Linked DNA regions of Homo sapiens: all the other regions are linked to region 2. The links come from fine-mapping of genetic effects on gene expression. A gene starts in region 2. Each other region holds a variant in brackets. All regions are shown on one strand. Distances are between the middles of the regions.

Region 1 (5,073 bases), 130 kb after region 2:
TTGATCTGTATGGTACAGAAATTCTTGAGCACACCATGGGACCATTTGCCTCGGGGTGAATGCAATGATTTGAACAGTCGTTCATCTTTCAGGCCCAGTGAGAAAAAAATGCTGCTGATAACAAACTTGCATACATTTATGTGGGCTCTTTCATGACATTTTCTGTGCTTTGAAAAGAGTTTTGGTAATTTTCTAATCCTACAGTGGCCCTCAGGGGCTTGTTTAGAGAGCCTTTGAGGAGAAGTGCCTTCCTGCTCTGTGTACCTCTTTTTCTCTTTCATAAAAATGTTAGATATTTAAGGTGTACAACATGATGTTTTGAGATACATCTACACAGTGAAATGACTATTACAGTCAAGTAAGTTAACATAATCCATTTCCTGAAATCTACTCTCTTAGTGAATTTCCAGTGTATAATACAGTATTATTAACTGGAGTCTGGATACTATACATCAGAGCTCTGGGCTTCGTCCTATGGAACTGCACCCTTTTACCCTTTGACCTACATCTTCTGATTCCCTCTACCTCCCCAACCCTGGTAACCACTGTTCTGCTCCCTGGTTTTATGTATTCAACTTCTTTAGATTTCACATATAAGTGAAATCATGCAGTATCTTGTCTTTCTGTGCCTGGTTTATTTCACTTAGCAGAACGTCCTCCACGTTTCTCCATTGTGTCCTAAATGGCAGGATTTCCTTCCTTTTTAAGGCTGAATAATATTCTGTGGTGTATATTGCCTATATTTTCTTTATCCATTCATCTGTCAATGGACACTTGCCATACCCTTGACCACAGAAAGGGGCTCCTGTCCCAGAGAAGATGCCGGCCTCCTGAGCGTACAACAGCGCTGGGGAATGCTCCAGCAGTGCAGGGAAGGGGGCCCCCAGGCAGTCCCGGGGCCACTGGAGACCCCTTCCTTGTGGGAAGAACCAGGAATTGAGTAGAGGAGAAGCAGCACGGAGGAGGGCCTCCAAGGAGAGAAGAGCCCTTACGGCCACATCCCTGGATCTCCCAGGACCAGTTCAACAACGTGGCCAGTGCCTTTTTCTCTCTCCCTGTTCCTCATCAGCTGTCCTTCCCTTTGCTTCCTTCTGCTTTATTTCCTGGAGATGCTCCCAGAGCACCCTGGTGGTAGCAAACTTGAAAAGAGCCCCTGTTTGTGGAAATGCAAGGGGTTGTGTGACTGCATTTGCCAGCCCAGGAGAGACCCTGAGGCAGAGCAGCAGAAAGCTCCTGGGCCTCAGAGTCAGAGCTCAAAGCCTGTCTCTGCCAGTGTCCACCTGTGGGATGCTCACAGCAGCCACCTGACAGCCACCATTTACTGAGCACACCTGGGCCTGCCAGCCTCAGATCTGCCCTGGACCTTCCCTGCACTGCACCAGATCTAGACAGGCTGTCCACCGCAGACCCTGTTTCCCAGACCCCCTTGTCACCTGGCTCCCCACTGGCTTTGTCCAGAGGGAGCCTGGAGGGTGGGCAGGTGGAGAACCAGGCTACTTCTCCCTCACTGTTCCTGCCCTGGGGACATCTCCAGCGGGGTCTGAGTTTCCCCGGGCTCCAGTTCCCGCGGGATAGACCTCCATGGTTCCACCTTCCACTAGGGACCCCAGCAACGAGACCCCTTCATCCCACCAGCCCAGGAGCGGTAGTGGCTTCCTGCTCTCACTAATCTTGGGGTGTTCCTGCTGGCTTCTCCACTTTGCCATCACCTCGTTAAATTCCATCTCTTTAGATACTCAAGTCCTGGTTTTCCCTGAATAATCACAGTTTGTCAGCTCTGAACTAAGCCCTCACCAGCATTTCTCGAGATAGCCCTCAGAGACTCTTGTTGTACAGCTGAGGACCCTGAAGCTCAAAGATGCACAGGGATTGGTTTAGGGTGACTCGGCTGGTGAGTAGTTCAGCCGGAATTCAGACCTAGGCCTGTCTAGAGCATACCTGGGCTTCTACTCACTCCTCTAGTTGCTTCTGTGAGTTTCCGTTTCCCCTTCTCTGAAAGAACCAACAAGATCTACACTACAGTGTTGTTTGAAGGACTAGAGAGTGCCTGTAGTGTGCCTCCAACCCTGCTTCACACGCATCGGGACACCTCCGGCAGGGTGGCCTGCTCTGCAGGGAGGGCCATCTTGTTTTCCAAGTGGCACCCACTGCTGCCAGTGAGTAGTTTCAGTGGCCAGTGTGGAGAGGGCACCTCTTCTGGCCTGTATGGTGGGCAGTGCCTGTTCTGCACTGGCCAGGGTGTTTGGTTACCCCAAGGGAGGGAATCAAAAGTTAACTCTTTTTCGTTTAGGTTTTTTTTTTTTTGGTCAGAATTCTTACTGGTTTCTGTGAGTGTGGGTTTGAAGTTGGCACTGATA[G/A]AATCTGTGGTTTGACTGTTTCTTGAAGAATGTTTAAGCAGCAGCACTGTTTATTTCTGAGTCCTCATCCAAGAATGAGCTCCTTGTGGCATAAAAAGCACCGAACTCCCACTGAAGCCGTCTTTGTGGTGACAGAGATGGAACCGTCCTTACCTCGCAACCTAGAATGCAGTACCAAGATACTAAAGACACTAAAAACAACTTTTTCTTCCCCTAACATGATGGGATATTCGAGTCAGAACCCTAAGGCGTCCTCCTAGGGTAGAATAAGCTTCCATTTGACAGAGGAGAAAAATCAAGGCTCAAAGAGGTTAAGGGATCTGCTTAAGGTCACACAGTGTGGTGTTGGTGGCAGAACCAAGCCTCATGCCCAAGGCACCTAACTCTGGTTGCCCTGGAGGCTGTGCCCTGGCTCTGCAAGCAGAGCTAGAAGAACTGCTCCATGTTCGTCATTGGCTAAGCCTCAGCAGAGCTGTAGGGGATCAGGTTAGGGACACTGCCCTGTGATTTTAATAGACCCAAATTACTACTGTGGTCACAGAAACAGGCTTGGGATAACTATGCCTTTCAGTAAAGATTTTGTACAGAAATATGTTAATTTTATTTACTAGGTTGTCTGGCACATAATAGCATGCATTATTAATACAGTAGCTTAATACTCTCTATTAAATAGGCATACTCTTTGCATTGTAAAACGAACCTCTCTTTTACGATGTACTTCACAATGCCATGTCACAACGGCACGTGCTCAGAATATTACAGCAGGCTTCCATTCCGCCTTCCATGAAATACTAAAAAAGAGACCATCTCTAATGCAACTCAGTAGCCTGGTGATTAATCCATAAGCACATTTTTAACTGAGTTCTCCTAGGCCATTCTTCGTCTTAGGGGCTTCAGACAAAGGTGAGCTTGTGGTTCTGAAACTTTTATTCTCCCCTACTGCCCAAGTCTGTCCACTACCTCCAATGGTGAGTCACGGAGATTTCGTCTGCCACCCGCGGCCTTGTGAGCGCTACAACCACGGAACTGTGGTGGAGTTTTACTGCGATCCTGGCTACAGCCTCACCAGCGACTACAAGTACATCACCTGCCAGTATGGAGAGTGGTTTCCTTCTTATCAAGTCTACTGCATCAAATCAGGTAAGACTGAAGGCCTCACCCTTGGAGGAGATGGACCCTCCTTGGACCATCTGCACATAGTGGGTGGTGGTTATGTACCAAGCTGTATCTCTCCTCCCCCACCCAGTGTCAGGAACAGGATATCGAAACATATCATTGCGGGTCGATGGGGCTGCTGTTGGGCTCTGTGCCAGATGCTTGTAGGTCCTGTTCAGACAGTCAAGAGTATTAACTGTCTGCTGGAGGTCCTTCCATGGATGCTAGGGGCCTAGGGACCCTATTCAGAGGGTCAGGAGTATTAACCTGTCCATTCCCAGGTTAAAAAGCTGACCATCTAAACAGGGTCCCTAGACCCCTAGCATCCATGGAAAGACCTCCAGCCTCCACACTCTTTTTTCTCCCAGCCTTGTCCTTTTCCACTGGTAAGGACACAGGCCTGTGGGTGTGACCAGAATTAGATGCATTGCCCTGGACCCAAGCAACGCATAACTTTACCTTTCTCTTCCACTCAAGGACACATATCAGAATACAGATGATACTGTGGGTAACACCTGCTCTCACTTGTAAAACTATAGGCCATTTGCAAGCTTCAGGGCTTCATAGTTAAAAGCAAATGACTTAATTGCAAACCACCTTCCCCACTGGCCTCAGTGCACCTGGGTAGTGACCACAGGATAGAGACTGGGGCACCAGCACACACCCACTGTCTCCTTCCCACTCTCTCCAGCCCTTTCCAGGCTGGGGATGCTGCCCTGAGCAGTGCTGATGACTGCATGCCTTTCCCCTGGACACAAGGAAGCACTTGTTAATGCCAGGTCTCTGGAGGCGCACACATGATCCTGTGAGCCAGCCGGGGGAGAAGTGCAAAGAGAGTGTCTAAGAGGGTGGTCATGACAAGGCAGAGAGACATTTAAGAGACAGGGTGGCCTGTGCCCAAAGGATAAGTCTCTTCTGGAAAGGTCTGCTCTTGCTGCCCCTGACCTGGCAGGCAGTTGATGGCTAGAGGTGGTAGGGCATGAGAGCTGTGGAACAGGGGTCCCCTTTACCCTCTGTTTCTTGCTTTACCCAACCCCACAGCATATCCCAGAACATTCACAAAGGGCCCAGCTTCCCACTCCCCCACCCCTTGGTCCATTTCGGAGCAACTTCTCCAGGCAAGAGAGATGCCCACCTCTGTTCTCAAGAGGCAGATGCATTATTTAAGCCTGTGCCAGGCCTGCGCCTGGGACTGGAATGTGAGCATGCAGGTCTGCAACCTGGCAGAGCCCATGCTGGAGACAGGTTTTTAGTGTTGGGTGGATCCTGATGCAATTTACATGAGCTACAGGGGCACATGGTATCTCTGCCGAGCCCTGGGGGTCAGAGGCACCTTGCACGCATCTCTTGTGCCAGATGAATCCAGCAAATGAGCCCACGGGGAACCTCGGCACCTCTCATGGTCTGGGAGCCTCACGTACAGCTTTGTTCTCCCTCATGCAGAGCAAACGTGGCCCAGCACCCATGAGACCCTCCTGACCACGTGGAAGATTGTGGCGTTCACGGCAACCAGTGTGCTGCTGGTGCTGCTGCTCGTCATCCTGGCCAGGATGTTCCAGAC
Region 2 (5,073 bases):
GAGATATACCTAATGCTAGATGACGAGTTGGTGTAGCGCACCAGCATGGCACGTGTATACATATGTAACTAACGTGCACATTGTGCACGTGTACCCTAAAACTTAAAGTATAACAATAATTAAAAATAATAATAATAATAACAATATGTTATGCTGTAGTTGCCCTCCAAATGCTTGTCTTCTTCAGCTGAATTAATAGAAGCAAGTTGTTTAAAATACAGAAAGCAACAGTACCGGCCTGTACTGGTCAGAACCCACAGAGGGAAAGTAGGGCCTCTTTCTGGAAACAAACTTTGATTGCTGGGGGTGGATATCATTGAGAAACTGGGTCAGAGAAAGGCCACAGGCTGGTGAAAAGTCTGGGAATCGTCGCACTGAAGGAAATGGCTATGCGTGACCCAGAGAAGAGAAGACTCAAGGGAACACGAAGCCATCTCCAAAGCCATGAGATGCTCTCTTAAGAAAGAGGAATTCTATTTAGCTGCGTGGGCCCACAGAGGAGAGCCAGAATCAGTGGGTAAAGGTTTCAGGGAAGTAGATTTCAGTTCAATATAAGAAAGACTTTTCTAAGAGACCTGCTGGCAAATATAAACAGGCTACCTTGATGAGTATTCAGTGAGGCTGAATGACCACTTATTAGAAATGTCAGAGAGGAAACTCAAGCATAGATCCCATGTTTGGATCAGATAAACTTGAATGTTCCTTTCAGTCCCAACATTCTCTGTTAAAATTAGATTGTACTCCAGCCAAAGAACAGATTTCAATGGCACTTAGATATATCTCTTATAATTGTTAAGAACATGTGCATGGTCAACAAATATTTCTGACCGTTGTTGATTTGGTGGATATTTAAAAAGATTTAGAAAATTTACTAAGAAAGAAAAATGGAATAAATATACAAACTGTAGAGGACAGTCACAGGACCTTGGGAAGGTGGATGGTCCCCTACTAAGATTTTGGGGTCCCAAAGTACAAGCTGTAGCAAAACTGGACTTGTGCTAGTCAACATCTTGTTTATTTTGTGCAAAGCTGCCATCTCAATTTCACACACACGCAAAAGCAAAAAACAAAATAACGGAGCTTGACTTATCTACTAAAAGCTAATCTATCCTGAAAGAATGTGTTAAAATTACTCCCAGTAAGAGCTGACACAGTATAAAAGCTGTAATTTCCCAACTACCATCAGTATGTGAGATTTTGGGAAAGTCGATAGAAGCAAAGGATGATTTAGTAGCTGTATCAGGAACATAGTTTTCATATCCACAAATTGCTACAGAATCATGGAGTGTCACTGGCTCTAAAGCGCTGCCGGTGGACGCCACCTCATTAGCTGACACCTCTTAATCACTGTGGCTGGAATGTGGGCTTCCCTATCTTGAAACCGACCGCGGGCGATCAGAGCCGGCGGCGAGTGAGAGCTGCAACCACTGCGGGCTGAGCTCCGACACCAGAATCGGCGCAGAGACAGGGGACCGACCAGGCCAACTCTCTCCACTTGGGGCTGGGAGGGCAATTACCACCGACCCCCTTGGCTTCCCATCTACGACCCCGGAAGCCTCCCCTCCTCCAGGTACCCAACCTTCTGCGTGTCACCAATCACCCGCTACCCCCGCCTCCCCGCCCCCGGGAGCGCCTCCCAGGCCAAGGCTCCGAGGGCCCCGCGCATCTCCAAGACCGGACAGGGGTCCTCACTCGCAACACCTGCGGCTGGCAGAGGGAAAATACCAAGGGTGTGGGGGAGGGGGAGAGTGTCTCTCAGCCGCCTCAGATGGTCCTTCGGGCTCCCTGGGGACGCGCAGAGCTTCGGCGGAGATGGGAGCGGGGAGGGGTTAACGCGGGAAATTAAGAGACTCGGGCAATTGGCGGTGCTCAAGTTAACCGGGTCTGTGGCGAGAGTTCTGGGGTTGGGAGCTGCCGGCCGCGCACTCGCCCCGGGTCTGCAGCCACCGCCGCGGCGGTAGTTCTAGGGCGGAGCGCTCTCCCGCGCCGCGCCGCGGGCTGGGGGCACCAGAGGCCGCGCGGAGGCCGGGGCGGGCACCTGAGCTGGCGCGCAGCCGGGGCAGGGGCTGCAGTCCAGCGCCGGGGAAGGGGCGACCGAGCTGCGTGCGTGTGCAAGACCGGCCGCCGGCGCCTCGCGCCCCGACAGGTGCAGGCGCGCGGGCTTCCCATTGGTCGCGGCGGCGGGCCCCTTTCCCCGTCCCCGCCCTCGCCAGTCTCCGGCCACGCCGCGGCGCCGGCTGGGTTGGCAGAGGCGCGTGCTCGCGCGCCCGCGCACCCCTCGCCCCGTCCCCGCCCCCCCACTCACCCCGTCCCCACCCACTCCCTCTCTCCGCGCCGCCGCCGCCGCGCGCTCGCGAGTTCAGGTAGCGGGCGCGCGGGCGCCTCCGCGGGGGCGCGCGGCCGGGCTCCCGTCCTCCCCCAACACCCGCCCGCTCGGGGGCGCCTGGGGAGGGAGCGCGCGGGCGGGGGAGCTGGAGCCGAGCGCCGCCGCCGAAGCTTCCGTCTCGCTCGCTCGCGCAGCGGCGGCAGCAGAGGTCGCGCACAGATGCGGGTTAGACTGGCGGGGGGAGGAGGCGGAGGAGGGAAGGAAGCTGCATGCATGAGACCCACAGGTAAGACCGACAGTCCCGGAAGGGTCTTCCATTCCGAGGAGGCGCGCGCAGGCCGGGGAGGGGGAGTTGGTGCCTGGTGCAGCTCCCCAAGGGAGAATTTTTTTTTTTTTTTTGACAGCGCAGAGAAATCTCACTGGGGACTGGGGCAGTAGGATCGATCCCAATCCCGAGGAAAACCAGAGAAGTAGCTGGGGGAGACGGTGCCACATTGTGAGATTCCCAGAGTGAAATGTATAGGCCCAGGGAAAAGTGTCTTCGCGGCCCCGAGACGCGGGGAGGCTCTAGACTTTCCTGTGGTGGGCACAGCTGCTGAATCCCGGGGACCGGCGCGGAGCCAATGTGCGCTAACCCCTGCCCTCCCTCCTGTCCTCCATCCCCCAGCACGCGCAGCATCCCACGGCGGCTGTTACTCAGTGCACCCGGCTCGGGGGAAGGCGGGGGACCTCGCCGTGGGAAAGGGGGCGGGGGCCGCGCGGGGGAGGAACCAGGATGGAGCCTGGGAAGCCGAGGCGCCGGGTCCCAGAGCGGAGGAGGGGGAGCGTGGCCCCCGAGCCCGGACAGACTGGCTTATTGTGGTGTTCCGCTTCTGGTTGCAGACTCTTGCAAGCTGGATGCCCTCTGTGGATGAAAGATGTATCATGGAATGAACCCGAGCAATGGAGATGGATTTCTAGAGCAGCAGCAGCAGCAGCAGCAACCTCAGTCCCCCCAGAGACTCTTGGCCGTGATCCTGTGGTTTCAGCTGGCGCTGTGCTTCGGCCCTGCACAGCTCACGGGCGGTGAGTGACCCAGCTGTGGTGGGAGGGCCTGGGGATGGCCCAGAGGGGAGAAAGAGCCTAGCTGCCAGGACAGCCCTGCACCCCTCCCCCATACACCCAGACTTCAGGAGGATCTGACAACGCGAGGGTGCCTGCGTCCCAGCCTATGGCCGCCCTTCTCCGAAACCGCTGGAGTTCCCTGAAAATTCCCATGTGGAGCCCGCACAGATTCACACACCCACATTCTGTCTGGAGCTTCCCACCAGCCTCCGGGCCTGGCTTCTCCCAAGGAAAGACAATAAAGCCTGGCCCATTATTCCCACTTTGGCCAAGGAAGCGGGGGCGGGGGGGGGAGGGGTGGGGGGTGGGGGCAGTGGGGAGTGGTGTATTTGTGGACCTCTTGCCAATGCCTTCAGCAGATAGAGGTCAGATTTCAGCCTCTGGATTTAAGCAAGAGTTTAAGAACCACCTTTGAGAATGTGAAGGGTCTGGAAACGTGGTCAGACTGGCTGCGGGGCAGGTTTATTTGAAAGTTAACTTTCCCTTCCCCTGTGTGTGCAGCATGTATGTGTATGTTGGGGGCGTGGAGGAGGTGCAGAGGTATTCTTTCAGGTGTGCCTCTGACAGATTGCTTTGCTCATCGAGGTATGATTTCAGGGAATAAAGTCAGTTGCTCTTCTATGAAGTAGAAGTTAGCTGAAATAAAATTGATAGCCTCAGCCTCCGTGGGCGGCTAATCTATAACATATTTGGTTCTGGGGGAGGGGTATCTTTTAGTTGTGGTAGAGGAAGACAGATGGAGTTCCTGTCTGAATTTGAGAGCCTAGTCTCCCTGCCTCCACTGCTCATTGCTGTCCATCATTCCTGTCCATTGCAAACGTTCTCTAGAGCTTGCTGATGTGGACGTTAAAAGGAGCTGAGATACTGTTAATATATAAATAAATTATCTTTGGTTGAAAAGCAAGTATTGACTGATGTAAATAAACCATTTTAGCGTTTTAAAATATTGCTGTTTCAGAGAATTCAAAGGTGAAAATGGAAAAAAAATGAGTGAAAAATTAGCAAAAGTGGAGGAGAGGTGTAATAAGTTGGGCTTTAACACAGAGTAATCAATAACCCAGGCATTCCACTTAGACATCTGAAAGATGCCCAGAGTATAAAGGTGTTTATTGCAATGTGCATATCTATCAAAATTAGTGAGAAAACACTTGCTTTGGGTGGACATTGGTTTTTATTTTTATTTTTGTATTTTTTTTTTAAGAAGGAATAACTTTTTGGATGCTTGTAGTTTTTTATAGAGATTTCTCTGAGGCAAGCTTCCTCTTCATGGAGGAGAAGGTCAAGTGTGAGGCCAGGCCAGCACCTGTGTGCCCTGCCAGGGCTCTGGTCACAGCCTCTAATCTGCCGTGGACACCAGCTCTGCTTCACATATGAGTGGGAATAGACGGGCAGAACAGTATTGCGTGGATCTGGATCATTTCCTCCCCTCCTCTCTGCTTTTGCCTCCCAGTTCTAGCTTTCATTCTCTCAAACCAGGTCCACATGATTTTCCATCTTCTTGGTCCATTTCTCTTATGTAGATGACAGACTAGTTAATCAAGGTTCATTTACATTTGTCTTGACTATTGTTATTGGATGGGTGAGGTCTGAGCACAGCTGAGATTTGTTTTGTGCTCTTGGTTCTGCTTGGTCGTGTTTACAGA
Region 3 (5,073 bases), 170 kb after region 2:
AGACTCCTGGGCAAACAAGGACAAGTTGGTCACCCTAAAACCTTAGGTGGCCCTGTTGCCTCATTTGTTGAATTTCTGTTCTCTGAGTCTCCTTTCATGTGTTTTCTGGGTGCTTGGATTGCTTCTTCTGCAAATTAGCAGCTCATAGTCCTTTAGCATTTTCTTGCTACAATTTAAATTTATCTTTTAAAAGTATAATTAATTCATAGTTTTTCAATGGTTTAAGAGATTGATTGTGTGTTGGAAATACATTTCCTAGTCTGTTGTTTGCTCTTTGATTTTGCTCATGGATCCTTCTCTTATAAAATGTTTAATTTTCATGTAGTCAACATATATCTCCCCCTTTGTTGATGGCTTCTGGGATTTCTAGCTTGTTTAGAAAGTGCTCCTTCTGGCTGGGCGCGGTGGCTCACGCCTGTAATCCCAGCACTTTGGGAGTTTGAGGTAGGCAGATCACTTGAGGTCGGGAGTTCAAGACCAGCCTGACCAACATGGAGAAACCCCACCTCTACTAAAAATACAAAATTAGCCAGGTGTGGTGGCAGAGGCCTGTAATCCAAGCTACTCAGGAGGCTGAGGCACGAGAATCACTTGAACCCAGGAGGTGGAGGTTGCGTTGAGCTGAGATCACACCATTGTACTCCAGTCTGGGCAACAAGAGCAAAACTCTATTTAAAAAAAAAAAAAAGAAAGAAGGAAAGAAAGAAAGAGAGAAAGAAAGAAAGAAAGAAAGAAAGAAAGAAAGAAAGAAAGAAGGAAAGAAAGAGAGAGAGAGAAGGAAAGAGAGAAAGAGAGAAAGAGAGAGGGAGGGAGGGAGGGAAGGGAAGGGAAGGGAAGGGAAGGGAAGGGAAGGAAAGAGTGCTCCCTCCCTCTATGATTATATAAATAGACCCCTAAATTCTGTCCTAATATGTTAATGTCTTATTTTGACAAGTAAATCTTTAAATCACCTAGAATTTGTTTCTACATATGGTTAAAGTAGAATCTCTGTTTGTTTTTCTTAAAGTTGGATAAACAGTTGTACCTGAACAATTGCTGGAACCACCCTTTCTCTCTGACTGAAAATGCCATCATCATATTTTAGATTTCTCTACTCATCTATTTCTGGGCTCTCAGGTCTGTTTCCTTAATACATTGGCCAGATCCGGTGCCAGCAACATACTGTTTTGGTATTGGTTGCTTGAGTCTGAGTTTTATTGTCTATACTAGAACTGGTCCCCATGCATTCGCATTTTCTTCACTATTTTTCTCTGAACATTTGAAATGTATAGTTATTTTACATTTACTTTACAATTATTTTATCTACATAGAATCTAAAATTACTTTATCCGGTTCTTAGAAGTAAAATTCTAACTGCAATTGCATTAAATTTATATAGTAATGTCTTAAATTTAATACATTAGTTTTTTAAGAACTGGTATTTTTTGATGTTACATCTTTCCATACAGAAGCATGGCTTGTACATATCCATTTGCTGAGGGTTTTTTTTAAAATGTCCTTCAATACGATTGTATCATTTTACTTCTGTAAATAGTTTACCTTTTCTTGTTAAATGCATCCTTAGGAATTGTATAGTGAGTGCCTGCTGTTATTATGAATAGGCTATTTTTTTTCATTTCCCTTCTCAAATGTTTATTGTTACCATAAACCAAAGCTTTATATTTATATATTTATCTACCTATCTACCTTACTAAATTCTCTTACTAATTTTAATATTATTTTATTAGGATCTATAGGTTGTCTAGGTATACTCTCAATCATCTGCAAATAAAGACATTTCTGTCTTCATTTCCAATGCTTATTCCAATCAATTCATTTTCATCTTATTGTTATTAGTTAAACCCACCAATGCTGTGTAGATCAATAGTGATGACAATGGGCACTCTGTCTTGATCTTGAATTAATAGAAATGACTTCAGCATTTTTCCATTTAGTAAACTGTTTGCTCTTGGTCTGTAATAAATAGACTTTACTGTATTTAAGTAGTTTCTATCTATTCACACAGAACAATCTCTTAGAGGAAAAAAATATATGTACCTGTCAGATACATAATAGAACTACCAAATATCTATGATATTGGCTACACAAATTGTGAAGCATGAATCATATTTCTATTTGATCTGCCACGGTGAGAAACTCATAACATTTTTGTGGTTAGAAAATTTAAGAAAACCACAGTCATTTTAGAAATACCCAATGCCACTTTCTCA[C/T]GGAAAGAACCCAACCAGGGTGTGTCATCTGCACTCCCACATCACCCATTTGCTGACCACAGGGGCCCTGCTGAGCGCTCAGCAGCCAAGAGACAACCCCCACGGTGGGCTTCCAATCCAGGTGGGTGGCGGGCAGAAGGCAAAGGGATGAGAGACCTGAGGCAAAGGTGGAGTATAGCAGAGGGGACTTATGAACCAGGCCTATATCCCAGCCAGACAGGGTTGGTGGGTTAGAAAGGAGAGGCCAGAGAAGGCCAGAGCACAGTGAGACAGAGATGGGACAACATCTGGCACCTCTGCAGCTGTCACTCTTGCCATTCCGTGATGTCATGTTGCTGAATAGATTCTCTTACTCATAGGTAGAGCTGTGGAAATGAATCCAAATCCCACATAAGCGGGAATGTTGTAAATCCTTTAGTGTTTTCACAGCTGCTAGGAGGCACACCCCTGAGTCGTCCTGGGCAGAGAGAGGTGGGTGTCCCCCTATCCTGTTCCTCATCCTCCTCCTGAGGCCCCAGCGCAGTGTTTCAGTGTCCATTGTCTGATTTGACACATGGGAGAGAAGATCATGGCCCTGTCTCCAGGGAACACAAGTCCAGCACTGAAAGGTGACACAAAGGTGATGCACGCAATCAAACGTTTGGTCTTGGGGTTTCTCACTCACCTGCAAATTGGTGCCCCAAGCCCCCAGCCAGGACAGCTCCTTCCCTTCCCCCTCGCCTGGCTGTGGCTGACACCTAGTCCCAATTGGCAGGTCCACCTGCACCAGCCCCCACCTGCACCAGCCCCTAACTTCCCCAGTGCCCACCTGTATCAGCCTCCACCTGCACCAGCATCTGCCTACACCGGCCCCCAGCTGCACCAGCCTCCACCTGCACCAGCCCCCACCTGCACCAGCCCCCACATGCACTAGACCCCATCTGCACCAGCCCCCACCTGCACCAGCTCCCACCTGCACCAGCCCCCACATGTACCAGCCCCCACTTGCACCAGCGCCCACCTGCACCAGCCCCCATCTGCACCAGCCCCCACCTGCATTAGCCCCCACCTGCACCAGCCCTCACCTGCACCAGCTCCCACCTGCACCAGCCCCCACCTGCACCAGCCCCTACCTGCACCAGCTCCCACCTGCACCAGCGCCCACCTGCACCAGCTGCTACCTGCACCAGTGCCCTCCTGCACCAGCACCTTTCCAGGAACCCCTTCCCAAGGAGAAGGAGATGACAAAAGAGGCCTTCAGAGCACCCCATATGAGGGAGATTCTTGGAAAGCAATTCCTGTTCCCCCTACCTCTCTCATGTCCAGTTTTTCCAGGACAAGCAAGGTCTCACTAGCTTAAATCAACAGGAAAATTCCATCAGCACATTCTGACTGTCTGTGACCATGACCTGGTGCTGGAGCTGTGCCGATACAGGGTGAGAAGGAAAGGGCCCAGAGAGCTGGAATACCTCACCCATACAGGAGCCACCCACCAGGGGACAAAGTAGGTGCCCAGCAAAGAGGGAGGGAGCAGTTCCACCCAACAAGGGGCAGCCTAGCCAGGGTGTCTGCGGGCGCCATGCACCCTGGGAGGTCTTTTCTCCACACCAAGGCTGCTCAGAAAAATCCACAGCCTTGCCCACCGTCAATATGCCACAAAGCACCATGCTTCTCATCTCCCCTGACTTCTCTTTCTCTTCCTCTTCCTCCCCCTTCCTCCCCTTCTTCCTCTTCCTCCTTTTCCCCTTCATTTCCTCCTTTCTCTCTTCTTATTTCTCTTCTTCTGCTCTTTTTCCCCCTTCCTCCTCCTTCTTTATCTCTTTGTCTTTTCTTTTTCCTTCATCCTCTCTCTGCCCCTACACTGCCTGCTGACAGGATTTGCAGCTATTCGCTTTCCATCCATCCACCCCCACCACCATCTTTCCAACAAATATTTATTAAGCATATATGTTGTACTGGGCATGTAAAATCACATTTTCTATTTACAATGGGAAATCAAATAGTTCTACTTTGTTTATGAATAGAACTTTAAAATTGTTGTTTGATAATTTCTAGCCTTTTCAAACACTTCTGCCTCTCTCCTCCCCACATTTGTGGTTTTAAACTTCTTATTTTGAGATCATCGTGGATTCATATGCAGTTGTAAGAAATAATGCAGAGATCCCATGAACACTTTACCTAATTTCCCCCGATAGTAACATCTTGCAAAACTGCAGTACGGTATCACAGCCAAGACCCTGGCATTGATACAGCTAAGAAACAGAACATTTCCATCATCACAAGGGGTCCTCAAGTTGCCTTTTTATAGACATACCCATTTCCTTCCCTTGTCAATGCCCTCTCCTCCTCCTTAACTCCTGCCAACCACCAACCTGTTCTCCATCTCTATAATTTTGTCATGTTAAGAATGTTAAACTAATGCAGTCACGGACTGTGTAGCAGCCTTTGGGGATTGGCTTTTTCCACTCCGGATAATTCTCTGGAGATTTATCCAGGTTGCTTTGTGTATCAAGGCTGTTTCTTCTCATGGCTGAGTAGTATTTCATGGTATGGATGAACCAGTCTGCTTAATCATTTACCGACTTGTTGAAGGACACGGGGGTTGTTTCCAGTTCTTGGGCTATTACGAATGAAGTTGCTGTAAATATTCATGTGCAGGTTTTTGTAGGAACATAAGATAAGTCTTCATTTCTCTAGGACAAATGTCCCAGGGTGCAATTTCTGGATGATATGGTAGTTGCACGTTTAGTTTTTTAAAGAAACTCCCGAAGTTTTCTAGAATGGCTGCACCATTACATTCCCACCAGCAATGTGTGAGTGATCTGGTTTCTCTACATTCTAACTGGCATTTGATGCTGTCACTACTTTTTATTTTAGCCATGCT
Region 4 (5,073 bases), 990 kb before region 2:
ATGATCAAGATAAGGAATTATTATATTTCTTTTATAATAACTAAGTATTTAAGTTTCAGAAAGCAATCCCAGTTACAAGGCAGAATTAGATTTGACTTGAAAAAAATGAGTTGTTTCCTAAAGTTTGCTCATTAGACAACTCAATTTTCCCATTCATGTTCCTTCAACAAATTATTTTACAAAATAATCCTATTTTGCTCAAATCTAATCTGACCCAACCAGAACATTTAGTTTGAGTTCTTCAAATGTAAAACAATGGCTATTAAAAAAAAAAAAATGGGAAATATCCCAGCACTTTGGGAAGCTGAGGCAGGAGGATCGCCTGAAGCAGGAGTTCAAGATCAGCATAGGCAACATAGCAAGCCTCCATCTCTTTCACCCAGGCTGTAGTGCAGTGGCGCAATTCCAACGCACTGCTACCCCTGCCTCCTGGGTTCAAGCAATTCTTGTGCCTCAGCCTTCCAAGTAGCTGGAACTATAGGTGCGCGCCACCACCACACCCAGCTAATTTTTTGTATTTTTAGTAGAGACGGGGTTTCACTATGTTAGCCAGGCTGGTCTCGAACTCCTGGCTTCAAGTGATTCACTCACCTCACCCCCATCTCTACAAATTTTTTCTTTTTTTTTCATTAGCCGGGCATGAGCACCTGTAATGCTAGCTATTAGTAGCAGTACTGCTAAGGTGAGGCAGCAAAATGCCTAGAGCCCAGGATTCACGTTACACTGAGCTATAATCACACCAGTGCGCTCCAGTCTGAGCAGCAGATTTGGTAGGCACTTGTAGTCTCAGTTACTTGAGAGGCTGAGGCAGGAGAATCGCTTGAACCCAGGAGATGGAGGCAGCAGTAAGCCAAGATTGCGCCACTGCACTCCAGCCTGGGTGACAGTGAGACTCTGTCTCAAAAATAAACATGAAAATAAAATAAAGTCAAACTCATCACTTTCTCCACAGATTGATCTTCCTCCAATTTGTTTTATTTCTGTTACTGACACAAGTATCACTTGCCCAGGATCAAAATATGGAAAGCTATCTCTGCCTTCTGTTTCATATATCATAATCACTCATTTGTAGGTCCTGGCAATCATTTCTTCTAAATACTACTCACATATTCCCTCCTTTCACCTGCCCACAACCAGCACTCTATTTGAAATCCAGACGACCCTATCCAGTTGGTTTATCTTCCAATCTTTCTTGTTTCCAACCCACTCGGCAGATTCATCTTCCTAATAAACTACCGAAAATAAAAATTTTCAATGGCTCTCTATTGCCTGCAGGATAAAAGTGAAAGACTTCCCTCCCACCCTTAACATTCAAGCCCTCCAAAATCTGATGTAATCCTGCCTTTCCAACTTAGCCTTCTACTGACGCCAAAATCAACCATGTGCTCCAGATGGTCTATTCGTTAACCATAGCCCAGAAATCCACGAACATACCTGTCTCTGCACCTTCGCTCTTGCCAGTGTCTGATTTGGAATATTCACCTCTTCCCCTTCCTGTAGATTTTGTCCACAGTTCAAAGTCCAAGAAAACTCTTATATCCTATATTAAGTCTACCGTGACCATTTTCCACCTCCTATCCCTAAGTTAGTGCAACTATTCTAAAATACAGAATATGCTGAATTTCATCAAAACACCCCCCGAATGTATTTTAATGTAATGTCTAAGTCAAACATTCCACCTACCATTTCTCTAAATGCATAAATTGGTGTAAACCAGGGCTATTTAAAATTATCAAGCCTGGTTTTCCAAACTGCAAAAAGAAAAAACCCAGCTACATTTCTGAGCATAAGCTCTAGTTCAGGGGTGTCCAATCTTTTGGCTTCCCTGGGCCACACTGGAAGAAGAATTGCCTTGGGCCACACATAAAATACACTAATACTAATGATAGCTGATGAACTTAAAAAAAAATCACCAAAAAAGAATCATAATGTTTTAAGAAAGTTTACAAATTTGTGTTGGGCCACATTCAAAGCTGTCCTGGACCACATGCAGCCCGTGGGCCGTGGGTTGGACAAGCTTGCTCTAGTTCCTTATATCACAAGAGGGGCATAGAGGTCATCAAAACTTAGGCAAGTGATGCTGCCCTTTCAATCAGCTCCCCAAACCTACTAAAACTCAGAAATCTTGTCGTTAGATATCATCAAAGTAAAAACTGCTGCTCAATTGGGGAGGGTGGGGACACGAAGGCAGAGCAATATTTACTGAACATTAGCTATGGGGCAGGCACTGTGCTAGGGTGCTCAGCACCATTCTCATTGTGCATATCTAGGAAATAAACATTTCCTATTTTAAAGATCAGAAAACTGAGGCTTAGGGAAATAATGTGCAAGCAAAGAGCTAG[C/G]TGACCAGGAAATCTGATTCCAAATTTTGTCCCTTTCCACTACAACAGGATGCCAGTCCACAATGAAAAATGAAGCTGCACTGAACATATACTCTGTACGACTATCCTAAAGCCCGCATGCTCTAGCAAACAAATGGTTTAATCCGATCAGAAACAGGTACATGTGATTTCCAAGAAAGGAAGCTGAAATGCGGAGTTCCTCATACGTTTTTTCTTATATTTAATTACTTAAACCTGGATGGTGCAATACAACATTGGGCAACAACTAAGCCTAGATGCTTTGTCAAGAGATGGGAAGAGTTGTAGCCGACATGGCTACTGCAGTGCTAAATTCAACCACCATTTATTGCTCTGGAAAACAGTTTGAATACTGCAACTTAAGTTTTAACATGGATCGATAGAAAAATTTAAAAGCTGAGAAACGATTGGGAACTACAGCAGATGTAGTTATTGAATTTACAGATCTGCAACCACCGGGGACAACCAAAATAATCACTTTGTAGACAGTTGTTAAAACAACTCCTTTCCAACACTCACTACAAAACGGCACAGTGAAGGAAGCAACTTCGCTCCTTTGGCGAATGAGTCAACTCCTGGATGTGAAAGGTCCCTGCAAGTACTAACACCCGCCAGAACAAAGGGGCGGGTGCCGGGGGTGTTGCGTGGGGAACAGGAGGAGGCAAATGGCCCGCACTTATCCCGGCACCCGACTGTCGCAAGCGACCGCCCTTGGGACCCCCAATATCCGACGAAGAGCACGGCGCAGGGCCTCTCCCAGAAAAACAGCGACGCTTCTCTCCCGAGGGCGGCCGTGGCTCAGGCAGGGCTGGTCCGGGCGCCGCGGGGACGAGCGGAGAGCAGGCGGGCAGGCCGAGACGGGGCGCGCCCGGAGAGGCCCACTCGGACCCGAGTGAGGGGCGGCCGGCAACCCAGGCAGGGCAAGTGCGTGCAGGGCAGCAGGGCCCGTCGGGTAGGGCAGCCAGCCTCTCCTACCCGCTCCGGGGCCCGCGCCACCGCCCCGGCCAGGCCAGCTCCCAGGGAGCCCACGCCCGCCGCCGGGCGCCTCCCTAGTCCCACACACCTGCCCGGGTGCCCAACTGGCCCACCCTCAGCCGTGTCCCCCGGCAAGGCGTTCGCCTGCCTCAGGCAAGGATACGAAGTAGACCGAGAGGAAGATGAGCGCGCAACAATCGAGGAGAGAGAAGACGAACACCACCGCCTCCATCCTCCTCCTCCGTCGCCGCCGCTCCTTCCGTCAAACCCGCTCGGATGCCCCGACCCACCCCTGATAGGCCCTTGCCGGGGCTGGCTGAGGCGTGTGGTCCTCGAATCCTGGTGTGGCATGCCGGGAGTTGTAGTCCATATTTTAAAAAACTCTACGGCCCTAATTCTGACGCATGCTGGGAATTGTAGTTCATTAGTACAAGTCCATATCAAAGAGGTGGGCAGGGCCTCTTTCATAAATCCGATTATTTCCAGAAATGGAATTAATCAACAAGTATTTACTCAACGCTTTTCTTTTAAAGAGCTGGGGTCTTGCTCTGTCGTCCAGGCTGGAGTGCAGTGGCGTGATAGAGCTCACTATGACCTCGAATTCCTGGGCTCAAGCAATCCTTCCACCTCAGCCTCCCGACATGCCCAGCTAATTTTATTTTATTATTTCTCATTTTATTTTATTTTTTGAGACAGGGTCTCACTCTGTCGCCCAGGCTGGAGTGCAGTGGCATGGTCACAGCTCACTGCAGCCTCTACCTCCTGGCCTCAGGTGATCCTCCCACCTCCGCCTCCTGAGTACCTGGGATTACAGGAATGTACCACCACGCCTGGCTAATTTTTTGTATTTTTAATAGAGATGGGGTTTTTGCCATGTTGCCCAGGCTGGTCTCGAATTCCTCGGCTCAAGCGATCTGCCTGCCTCAGTCTCCCACAGTGCTGGAATTACAGGCCTGAGCCACTGCACCAGTCTCTACTGAACGCTTTTAATCCGGATATCCAGTAGGATGTATTTCCCATGTGTGAAATTTTCTTTAGAGTTGGCTCTAGAACCATTGCATTCCCTGACTTAGGATTTGTAAGGGGTTTTCATCTCAAAGCACAAATCTAACTTAATGCTCCTGGCTTGACTTTTGCGATTTGCCCTTCCCTTCCTGATTTCAATTTCTCCAGAGATTTCACAGTCCTTTGTTTATCCTCTCCTACAGCAATGTTTCTCTCCTCTCTAGATTTTAAGATCTTTAAGAAGTGAATACGATGTCTTACTCATCCATTCATTCATTTAACAAATACAGTTGTATTTGCAGGGGCTACTTTCCAAGACCCCCAAGTGGATGCCTGACACGATGGATAGTACCAAACCTTATGTGTACTATGTTTTTTCCTATATATACATACCTATGATAAAGCTTAATTTATAGATCAGGCACAGTAGGAGATTAACAAGTAATAATAAGATAGAACAATTATACTGTAATAAAAGTTATGTAAATGTGGTCTTTCTGTCTCAAAATATCTTATTGTACTGACCCTTCTTTTTGAGATGATGTATGATGATAAAATGCCTATGTGATAAGATGAAGAGACAGATGCAGCCTCTCCAGTGATTTTTATATTTTTCAGTCCAAATCTATTCTTACATTCATGTAACTATCCATTACTTGCAGTAAGTGGCTTGGTATCACTCGTTTTAGGGAATCCCTCACTGAAGTCTTTGTATAGGCTCAATACTTTCTGG
Region 5 (5,073 bases), 150 kb before region 2:
TCTTCAAAGAATCAAAGGCAGTAATCAGTGCGATCTATGTCACCATAAGTTCCCCACATCAGGGCTGTTGCAATATTTTAAGTGGATTTCATTGCTGGTGATTTAAAAAACACATAAATGGCCGGGCGTGGTGGCTCATGCCTGTAATCCCAGCACTTTGGGAGGCCGAGGCGGGCAGATCACGAGCTCAGGAGATCGAGACCACCCTGGCTAACACAGTGAAACTCCATCTCTACTAAAAATACAAAAAATTAGCTGGGCATGGTGGCGGGTGCCTGTAGTCCCAGCTACTTGGGAGGCTGAGGAAGGAGAATGGCGTGAACCCGGGAGGCGGAGCTTTCAGTGAGCAGAGATCACGCCACTGCACTCCAGCCTAGGTGACTGAGCAAAACTCCGTCTCAAAAAAAAAAAAAAAAAACACACACACATAAACACATCTCCTGTGGTCTGCATGTGGCAATGGGGAGATCAAGAACAGGGACAGGTCTCTGCTGACATTTATTTCTCAGTACACCACAGGTGCCTCCCTACCAGAGACCTGCTTTCCTGGCATAGATATGTGTGTCTCTGCCGCCAGAGATAATTTTTTCTGCCATCGATAGCATTTTATATATGTGACAATCACTTACACGAGGAGTTATTTATGTGGCACTTTGCAAAGTGCTTTAAAAATACAATTGCTATTCAGTTATTCCTTACCAATCCCTTGTCAGGCAGGCCATGTCTCCACATCAAGCTTTAGAGCATCCTGAGGCATAATGCTTCGTGCTTACGTCCCACCAGAAGTTGCAAGTAGGAATGTGGGTTGCCACCCCAGGGCTGCCCACAGGCTCTGGGTATCTCTATTTGTGCTGGAAGCTTTCTCTGCAGGAGTCATTTCCAATTCAAATGAGGGATTTGCAGGGAATGGAAGGGCCCAGAAGTCAGGTAGCTGGTGTTTGGTCAGGGCATAGTGCTTAGGACACCCCAAGGCCCTCCCCACCTGTGCCCAGAGTCCAGGAGAGCTGTGGGGCAGAACGGCTGGTCCCTATGAACAATGATTTTCCTGAAGACATTCTTCCAGAATGGTCTATGGGGCTATTGTTCTCATTTAGATACTCACTGACTACCCAGAACCCAGACAACAATGGGTCCTGTCCAGCCCCTCCCAGGAGTAGGCATGAGGGAGGTAGGGAGGGTGTCCCTGGTCCTTGAGGGCCAGCTTTGCTCCTGACACGTGGTTGAGCCTGGGAACAGGCCCAGGGGCCCCCATGAGGGCAGGCCAGGGTGGGATTGGAAGGAAGTGGTAGGAGGCATGAGCCCCAGCCCTTACAGCAGCAGTTGCCATCTTCCCCGTGGCTCTGGGACTTGGCCTCTCTATGGGGACAAAGAACAGATGGCTCTGAGCAAGCAGGAGAGGGAGGAGCTGTGCATCCTCAGAGGGCTCAGCCCCACTGGCCAGGGTGGCCACACTCCCGTGTGGGGAATCCCGGGAGGGGGTCCCCTGCCTGCCTGGTCTGCCTGAGCTGACAGCCTCTGAGTTGGGTGGAGAGAGAGGATAGTGTCCACACAGTGAGGATGCCCAGCCAGCTGCAGCCCCCAGGAGCCCCGAGGCAGTGTGGGGAGGTGGCGGGGGAGGGAAGCTGGGCAGAGACTTCCCGTTCCAAGATGCACCACCCCTGCACGCCTCATCTTGTCTGATGCTCACAGCAGCCCTGTGCAGCCAACGTTATTAACTCCATTTTACAGATGAAGAAACCAATATTCAAAGTGGTTATCAACTTGTCCAATATGATACAACTAATTAGGAGTGGAGAGTGGGCTCATTAGCTTCTCCAATGAGCCAAAATACCTGTGTGTCTCCCTCTGGGGCTTCAGTTTCCTCAGGTATTAAATGAGTATCTTTTGTATTTCTTCCGGCTCCAGTGGCATGTGGCTTCCTGGGAGGCACCCGGCATTCACCTCAAAATTATCTGTGGCAAAGCCCCTTTCTGATTTCCGTGCTTGAT[G/A]TGATCTCTAGTGAAGCCTTTACCTTTTCTCTGGTTTCCTGGAAGAAGCTGAGTGTACAGACAGAATGCTGGTAAGAGGCCACGGGGCCACTGAGATCAGTGAGTTTTTGTCACAACTGCAAGTTGAAGAGGCTGTGACATTTCAGTGAGTCCCCAGCTACATCTTGAGGAAAAGGGAGTGTCCTGGCCCACAGGTCCCTGCTGGGGATGGGGCTATCCAAACGTCTGATAAAGTTTGTCTCTGAACTACTGTTCTCTTCTCTTGAAAGCCATTTGGTTTTAGCTCCTCTAAAGGGCCCTGTGTGAAGCACCTGTTTTAACTCAAGAGTGTTCTCCTCAATTTCCTTGGGAACATGAACAAGACCCTTCTATTTCCAGATCCGAGGTCAAGACTAGCAAAGGCTCTCATCTGTGTGGGGACAGCTTTGCTCCTGGCAGTGGCTCTTCTCCTGCAAGGGTCTTCAGGTTTCCACTGCCAGGAAAGTCAGTCTCTTGAATGACTTGAGAACAAGATAACAACAAAACCTGGAAAAGGCTCCCTTACTTGTGGTATGGGTTTGCCTGACCAGCCACCTCCTGGACAAGAGGTGGGCAAAGGGGGACTGGCTCTTGGTGCCTGTGTAGGAGGCTTCTATATCAAAATTGGAAATACCCATTAGGAAATTGAGATTGATTGAGTGAGCACTGGTTTGCACTGGCTCTTGGATGTTTTATTTCTTAGCTTGTGTTTGCTGAGCACCTGCTGTGCCAGAGCCTTGGCCTATGGCTTTAGAAGAGGGCAGGGTCTGGGTGTTGTGGCAGATATGTTTGGTTTCTGAACCAACAGTGTTTCTAAATCTCCTTCTTCCTTTGTGGCTGAGAACGTCACTCTCAAGATAGAAGCAGCTGCAAATGCCATTTCACTTTCCAGGCTTTCTCAAAGCTGTGGAGTGCATGTCAAACCCAACGTTGACTAAGGAACCAGCAAGGGAAGCCTTCTAGAGAACTACTAGGGAGGATTTTCTCTCTGGCAACAAAAGAAATGTAAAAGAGAGGCTGTCCTCCCTTCCTTCTGATGGGCTTGTGTGAGAACCAGTGGTCAGCGGCCATCCAGCTACCTTGAGGGGACCAGATGACACTGAGGATGGCAGAGTGCAAAGAGGGGAGGCAGCAGGTGCCTGACAACTTCATCACACAGAATTAACCAAGCCTAGAACTTCCTGTTTCCAGACAGCTCGACCTGTGAGATAATAAATGTCCTTATTGTTTAAGCCATTTCAGTTGAAATATTCTGTACTCGCAGCCAAAAGCATCCTAGGTGATACACACAGAAAACAGAGTCTTCCCACGCAGGAGATTAACACCCAGGGGAGACAGGAAATGCACCCATCAGGCATCTGAAGAGCATTTACCAACCCATGTTGTCCCCATAATTTACAGCTGGGTCTTATTTTAGAAAAGAGATGCATTCATAGAAACAGTGTGTGATACAAATTATAATTCTCAATTAATTTCATAAATGTTTCTGAGATGTGGTTTCTACAGTCTTAATTGATCTTTAACAATAGCTCCTAACACTTTGGAGTTTCTTTCTTCTGGTTTGACAAGTGGTAAATAGCTGGAAATCCCTACCATTAAAGTAAAATTATTTTGTAAACAAGGTATCCTTTTTACCAAATGAGTATTCATTCTTTAATTTACCCTTCTGGTAATTTCAGATTTTGGAAATAAGGGTCCTCAGGAAAGCCTCATCTGAATACCAGGCTCTGTGACCATGTTTATTATTCTCAAAGACCAGAGAAGGGTAAAGCATGTAATTGTGTCTGCACCTTATTATTCCAAGTGTTTATTGTAGCCTTAGCTGTGATTGGTGTAATGAGATGATAAAATGGTGCTTGTGGCTGAAACTCCTGGATAATACATCATTCAAAGGAAGAGGGAGATTTTTTGCAGAATTTACCATGGAGCTCTCCACAATCCCATCACATACATCTCAAACCCCTCATCCTTAGTGAGGACCTCAAAGGCTTTGGAGTTGAAAATTAGGAAGTGGATTTTCAGAGAGAGTCCTGGTGAGCCCCGTGGGGGATTGGTTCACCTCCTCCGCCTCTCTCCTGTTCAGAAGCCTGTTCCCGGATTCCCTTGTTTGCAGAGTGTTGAGTATGGTTTAATTCTGCCAACAAGTGCCTTGAAGCTAGATTAGGAAGCCGGAGTGGAGGCTGAGCCATTCTTCCTCTTCCAGCATAGTGGCAGGTGTATTAACTCTGGCCAGCATGAGTTCTTCCAGTGTATTTTTTTCCCAGCCACTCTTTTGCCTCAGGGCTGCTGAGCAGCTGTAAACATCAGCAGCAGTTTCTGAAGTTTTTTGACTCCCAATTGCAAAGTTAGAGGGGACAGCCTGCCTGACTGCCCTCACTCTGACACCAATCGCAAATTCAGGAGGTTCCAAAAACTCCTGAAATTATTTTCTAGAAGTCCCCACAGAACTCATGGAAAGCTGTTAGACACCCAGTTATGATTTATTACAGGAAAAGGATACAGATTAAAATTGATCAACAGAAGAATCCAGAAATATTCCAAATGCAGAGCTTCTGTTCTCCTCTTCCCAAGGTCAGGATGCATTAGTCTTCTGGCATCGATGCATGACAATATCCATGGAGTATTGCCAACCTGAGAAAGTTCTACTGTTTCATCTTTATAAATTAAAGTGACAAGCTGGGTGTGTGCCTGTAGTCCCAGCTACTAGGGAGGCAGAGATGAGCCCAGGAATTCGAGGCTGTAGTGAGCCATGATTGTGCCACTGCACTTCAGCCTGGGTGACAGAGATAGACTCTGTGTCTAAAAATTAAACAAAACAAGTGGGTTCTATTTTCCTATATGATAAGGCATGGGAAGTACATCCTTCTTCTCCTCAAGTCAAGATGGAAAAATTTGAAACAGATCATCCGGAAAGTTCAATATGGTTTCCCTGCAGTTTGGGGGACACATTTGACCAGGGTCTGAGTCTCCTTGAAGCACAAGTTTTTGCTGCACCGGGATCGGCCTGTACTCCAGGGGTCCGCCAGGTCAAATGATGTGGAACCTTGGGCTCTGTGTGAGAGAAGGT
Region 6 (5,073 bases), 120 kb before region 2:
TAAACAAATGCTATATGCTAGAGATTTTACTATATAAAGGATATCTAATTTTAAGGAAAATTCCAAGTAAAATAGCAGAAATTATAATATAGGATGAAAAATGTTACAATATAAACATAGTGGGAGATCCTCAATATTCCTCCCTTCTCCCTTTTTCTTCTTTTTCTGCTCCCAAAAAGAGATCTTGGCATTTCCTTGGTTTTTCTTAGTGGAGTAAGTCCTTTTTGAGGCACTAAACGGAGCCTCTTTCACACCTGAAAAGGGATGGGGGTGTTGGGTTCCCAGGAGAGGATCTGGATCTCTGTGTTGAAGAGGGAGAGTGACTTCATCTTTGGAGAAAAAGGTGTCTTTAGACCCTTTGCATTCGGAGGCTGTTGGACCCCTGGCAATACTTAGGGTGACCACATTTCCAGGAAAGCTGTTGTCCTCTGTGTCCCAAGGCTGGAAGAGGAAAGTTGCCCCACTTCCTGTGTGATGGGTGTTTAGGGAAGGCAGGACATGAAGGCACAGAGGTGGAGGCCTGAGAGACTCCGTGGAGGCTCCTAGGACTGCTGTCCTTAGGGGGATGCCTGGGTGTGGGCCTGAAGGAGGTGAGTACCAGAGCCCTGAGAACTGAGGGAGCCACGGAGCACTATGTGGGCACACTCCTCCCTTGGAGATCAAGGAAGCCTGTACCTGGGCAGCAGTCAGCACTGTCTTAGACTCAGAGGACCAGCGTCAACGGCAGCTGACAGCAAAAAGCAGGGAGGGATACAGGGAGTACCAGGAGAGAGATTTTGGACTTCTCATTCCTCTGGCATGTAGGTCTGAGCTGGCTTTATTTTTCATTTGTAAAAAATAGAATAGATATGACTTTACTTGAGGTCTGAATTTGCAGAGCAGTTCACACTGGTTACCTAAGCATATGCAGCAGGGCTGTGGGGCTTGTTGTAGGGGACTCTCCCCTCCTGCCACTGTCGTGTCTTCCTCAGACATTCATTCATTCATTCACTCAACAAACTATATGTCACAGTTGTTGTCTCAGCTCACTTCTTGTTCTGGAAGCTTCCATGGTTCCCCGTGATCCACTGCAGTAAGGACAACCCTCTGCAGTCTGGCCCACACCTACCCTCATCTTTCAAGTCTAACCTCTCACTCCTTCACATGTACACTTCCTAGTCAGAATATAGACAGACTCTTCCCAGATGTCCACACATGCCCTGGGCTGTCCTGCCTCATGCCCCTGCTAGTGCCTTTCTTCTGCTTGGAATGGCCCTGGGCCCCAGCACCATCACTCACTGTCTCCTCCAACCCCCTCCAAAGCCCAGTTGTTCAACAAGAATCTAAATGACAGAGACCCTGTGAGGACACCGGAAGAGAAGGGCCTCCCTCTCCCAAGCTCTAATGACCAAAGCTCCCCGGAAAGATGTCTCAGAAGCTTGTTTTGAGCGAAGAAAAACTGCAGATGATGGGGAAGGCATCTCCATCGTGAAAGCTTTATGCTAGGAGAACAAAGGGTGAAGAGAGACCACTAGAAGAACACAGACCGTCAGCCTTCCTCCCTCAGTGGGTTTCTCAGCACAGCCTCCTCCAATACTGTTTCATGCTTAGGGTCCCCAACAGAGAGAACTACCCTGAGTACCCCTGCCAGGCTGAGAGGAGGGGAGCAGTCTGGCTGACAGCTGCCTCTGGCTGACAGCACACTGTCCTGGAGCCTGGGGCCTGGGTCAGTGCCTGCTAGGCGGGCAGCAGTCATAGACAGCCGGCGAGGCCCCTCAGCCCTGCAGAGAGCCTTCCAGGTTCTGAGTCATGGATTATTAAACCTAGCTTTTTGGTGTGTATTTGGGGGGTGGGGTGGGGGTTTTGATAAACCACCTGTGACCCTTGGGTGGTTTTGAATCTCTCTGAGTCTTGAGTATCTCTTTGGAAAAAGAAAAGGATGTCACCAGACAGAGTTGCAGGGAAGTCAGCTTTGTACTTCATATTCCACCGGGGTCAGCTTAAATCCATTCACCATTAGGCTTTCCCTAATTCCCGGCTCCGTGGTTATTAAATCTCTGACTTTGAACACCTGCAGCATTGGGTTTGTAGCTCTCTCACGGCACTCGTAGCTGTAAAGTCAGATAGCTGTAAACTCCTGTAGGCTGGAAATGGCTCTGACAAATCTTTGTATTCCCCTGCCATAGCCAATGGAATGAAGTAGAAATTATTCACACTTGGTTGATTTGAAAGCTCACAATATGAACCAACATTTATGGAAGCTTTTTTTCTACGTGGCAGGCAAGCATTTTGCACAGGCTTTTCTCATGTTGTTCTCACAAGGAGACCTCATGGGGCGGGTACTTTGATGAGCCCCGATGACATCTTGGAGAGGTGAAGTAACTTGCCCGAAGTCATTCAAGCAAGCAAGAGGTGCCCTCAGGACTCAGCCCAGGCAGTCTAATAGCAGTCCACCCTCTCAACTTCCGGTGCTGTATGTCTGCTAGTTCATAAGCATGTGATGGTTTCACAACATCTGAAACCCCACCCCAAAAGAGG[A/T]TTCAGAAGGTTGTTTTGAGAGAAGGAAAATTGCAGACAACAGGGAAGACTTCTCCATCATGAAAGCTTTAAGTTAGGAGAAAAAGGGAGACGAAAGACCATTGGAAGGATGCAGACCAGCAGCCTCCGTCCCCTTAACTGGCTGAGCTGCTGGTTTGAGCTATCTTCTGCAGCTTACAGAAAATCAAGCTTCTCCCCAAAGAAGAAATGAAGATAACTACCCAAAAGGCCGATGGCTTTACAGCTTGGCAGACATTGGAATCCCCTGGAGAACTCTTTTTTTGACACCTGGTGAGGTCTGTGGAGAGAAACCTGCAAGGGAGTGTGAATCTTCCCTTGTTTTTTTTTTTGCCCCTGGAAACCACCATTCAACTTTCTGTCTCTGTGAATTTCACTGTTCTATGTACCTCATGTAAGTAGAATCATATAGTTTTTATCCTTTTGAAACTGGCTTATTTCATTTAGCATAATGTCCTCAAGGTTCATTCATGTTGTAGCATGTATCAGAATCTTCTTCCTTTTCAAGCCTGAGTAATATTCCATTGTATGGATAGACCACATTTTGTTTATCCATTCAGCTCTTGATGGACACTTTGGTTGTTTGCACCTCTTGGCTATTGTGAATAATGCTGCTATAAATATGAGTGTGCAGATATCTGTTTGAATCTCTGCTTAGAATTCTTTTGGGTATATACTCAGAAGTGGAAGTGCTGGATCATTTGATAATTCTATTTTTAATTTTTGAGAAAGTTATACCATTTTCCACAGTGGCTGCATTGGGAGGATTGATTGAGCCCAGGAGTTTGAGGCTGCAGTGAGCTGTGATCGCACCACTGCTCTCCGGCATGGGCAATAGAGTGAGATTCTGTTTCAAAAAAAAAAAAAAAAAAGTAGAGTGACGTAGATAAAACACACTTGTCATTGACGGTGGCATTTAGTAAACATTCAGCAGATGCTACTCTCCTAACTGTTCCCCTTTCTTCACTTAATCTCAGAATCCTGCCTTGATACAAAACAGTATCACATGTGTGCACCTAGGGGAGAAGAAGAAGAGAAACAGCTGGAAACGTGGATCTCATTGGATTACAGAGGGCCTTGAATGCCACATAAGGAATTTGGACTTTCTTCTGTGGATAGCTGCAGTAATGGGTTGAACTGTGTCCCCTCAAAATTCATATGTTGAAATTCTATTCCCCCAGTAATTCAGAATGTGAACTTATTTGGAAATTGGGTCACTGCAGATGTAATTAGTTAAGTTAGGATGAGGTCATGCTGGAGTAGGGTGGGCTCTAATGCAGCACGACTGGTATCCTTATAAAAAGATACTAGCACTGAGAGAGCCAGCGCTGGCCTGGGGGAGCACGGGAGGCAGCAGTGAGAGCTGTGTGTTTGGGAGTCAGGAGGTGACTGAGGCCCCACGGCGAGCGTGCAAGTGTGCGTTTGGTTCTCGGTGTGTTGGGCAGCAGGGGAACCATGGGATCCAACACACATTTTTTTTTTTTTTTTGAGACGGAGTCTCACCCTGTGGCCCAGGCTGGAGTGCAGTGGCACGATCTCAGCTCACTGCAACCTCTGCCTCCCGGTTTCAAGCGATTCTCATGCCTCAGCCTCCAGGTAGCTGGGATTATAGGCACCTGCTACCACGCTGGACTGATTTTTGTATTTTTAGTAGAGACGGGGTTTCACCATGTTGGCCGGGCTGGTCTCAAACTCCTAATATCAGGTGATCCACCCTCCTCAGCCTCCCAAAGTGCTGGGATTACAGGCATGAGCCACCGCCCCCGCCCCCAACACACATTTTGCAAGAGCAAACGCACGGAGGAATGTTCTGTTTGAGTGCACTTGTAGCTGTTGGGCTCTGGGCAAACCGTATGAGCCCTGAGATCCACAAGGAGAGGAGGAGTTCCTGGAAGTGGTGGAGGTGAAGGCATTACAATGAGCTGCCTCCCTTTAGCATCCTCAAGCGGCGTCCCGACCCCTTCAAGTCAAAGGCAGACATGTTCAGGGAGCACCTGCTATGAGCTGCTGCCCAAAGAGGTGGATGGGGTTGTCTCAAAAGGTGAAAAGACACAGGGAGGCCCTGCCCACAGGGCCATCTCCTGTGGGCAGCAGAGGCTTGCTCACAGCAGCTCAGGCAAAGAGCTGTAAGTCTGAAGAGCCAAGGGCGCTCTGTGCAGCAGGAGCTGGAGGGAAGCAGTGTCATTAACATCCCTGCCATTTGTCATCATCAAAAGGTATTTCTTAAGCACCTAATTGAGCCTGATACTGTGCTTGTGTTTTATTTTCAGAGCTTGTAAGGACTAAACAATGTGCAAACAAGCAAATCAAATATCCATATAAGGCAGGTTACTTGTTTCATTAATTTTCCTTTTCTCTCTTCTCTTCTTTCTCTTCTCCCAGTTTCGAACTCTCCAGACCTGGCTAATTACAAATGACGTGTATGCACAAAAGGTTATCATGGAGCTGCGGTTCACCTTCCAGTGATGATCATCCCACAGCCCCAACCCACACCCTCCACCAACACACAATTTTATACACATAGTGCACACATACCCC

Alleles and levels. Alleles are on the strand shown, and positions count from the first base shown. SD is a standard deviation of normalised expression in the study named. Not every link is listed here.
For the expression in whole blood of the gene that starts at base 2,493 in region 2, allele G in region 5 goes with a lower level than allele A (moderate effect, 0.40 SD a copy in GTEx).

Evidence for each region. PIP is the estimated chance that this variant, and not a neighbour inherited with it, causes the effect.
Region 1: its variant is fine-mapped to the expression of SUSD4 in whole blood (TOPMed, PIP above 0.99).
Region 3: its variant is fine-mapped to the expression of SUSD4 in whole blood (TOPMed, PIP 0.96).
Region 4: its variant is fine-mapped to the expression of SUSD4 in prefrontal cortex (GTEx, PIP above 0.99).
Region 5: its variant is fine-mapped to the expression of SUSD4 in whole blood (TOPMed, PIP above 0.99). The same link has a PIP of 0.9 or more in T cells and blood mononuclear cells.
Region 6: its variant is fine-mapped to the expression of SUSD4 in whole blood (TOPMed, PIP above 0.99).

What each region holds. Positions count from the first base shown.
Region 1 is chr1:223,227,621-223,232,693 of GRCh38, reverse strand. SUSD4 (sushi domain containing 4) reads left to right here. Exons shown (of 9, transcript NM_017982.4): 6 at 3,306-3,497; 7 at 4,956-5,073. Among named protein-coding and RNA genes, the nearest start is that of TLR5, 87 kb to the right of the region's middle. The variant G/A (reference allele first, on the strand shown) is at 2,358.
Region 2 is chr1:223,361,596-223,366,668 of GRCh38, reverse strand. SUSD4 (sushi domain containing 4) reads left to right here and starts at 2,493. Exons shown (of 9, transcript NM_017982.4): 1 at 2,493-2,612; 2 at 3,209-3,391. The coding sequence starts at 3,244.
Region 3 is chr1:223,187,671-223,192,743 of GRCh38, reverse strand. No RefSeq gene overlaps it. Among named protein-coding and RNA genes, the nearest start is that of TLR5, 47 kb to the right of the region's middle. The variant C/T (reference allele first, on the strand shown) is at 2,211.
Region 4 is chr1:224,355,419-224,360,491 of GRCh38, reverse strand. It overlaps CNIH4 (cornichon family member 4), which reads right to left and starts at 3,613. Exons shown (of 5, transcript NM_014184.4): 1 at 3,499-3,613. The coding sequence starts at 3,567. RefSeq lists enhancers at 2,763-3,263, 3,821-3,960 and a silencer at 3,171-3,540. The variant C/G (reference allele first, on the strand shown) is at 2,343.
Region 5 is chr1:223,512,588-223,517,660 of GRCh38, reverse strand. No RefSeq gene overlaps it. Among named protein-coding and RNA genes, the nearest start is that of CCDC185, 120 kb to the right of the region's middle. The variant G/A (reference allele first, on the strand shown) is at 1,989.
Region 6 is chr1:223,480,294-223,485,366 of GRCh38, reverse strand. No RefSeq gene overlaps it. Among named protein-coding and RNA genes, the nearest start is that of CCDC185, 89 kb to the right of the region's middle. The variant A/T (reference allele first, on the strand shown) is at 2,518.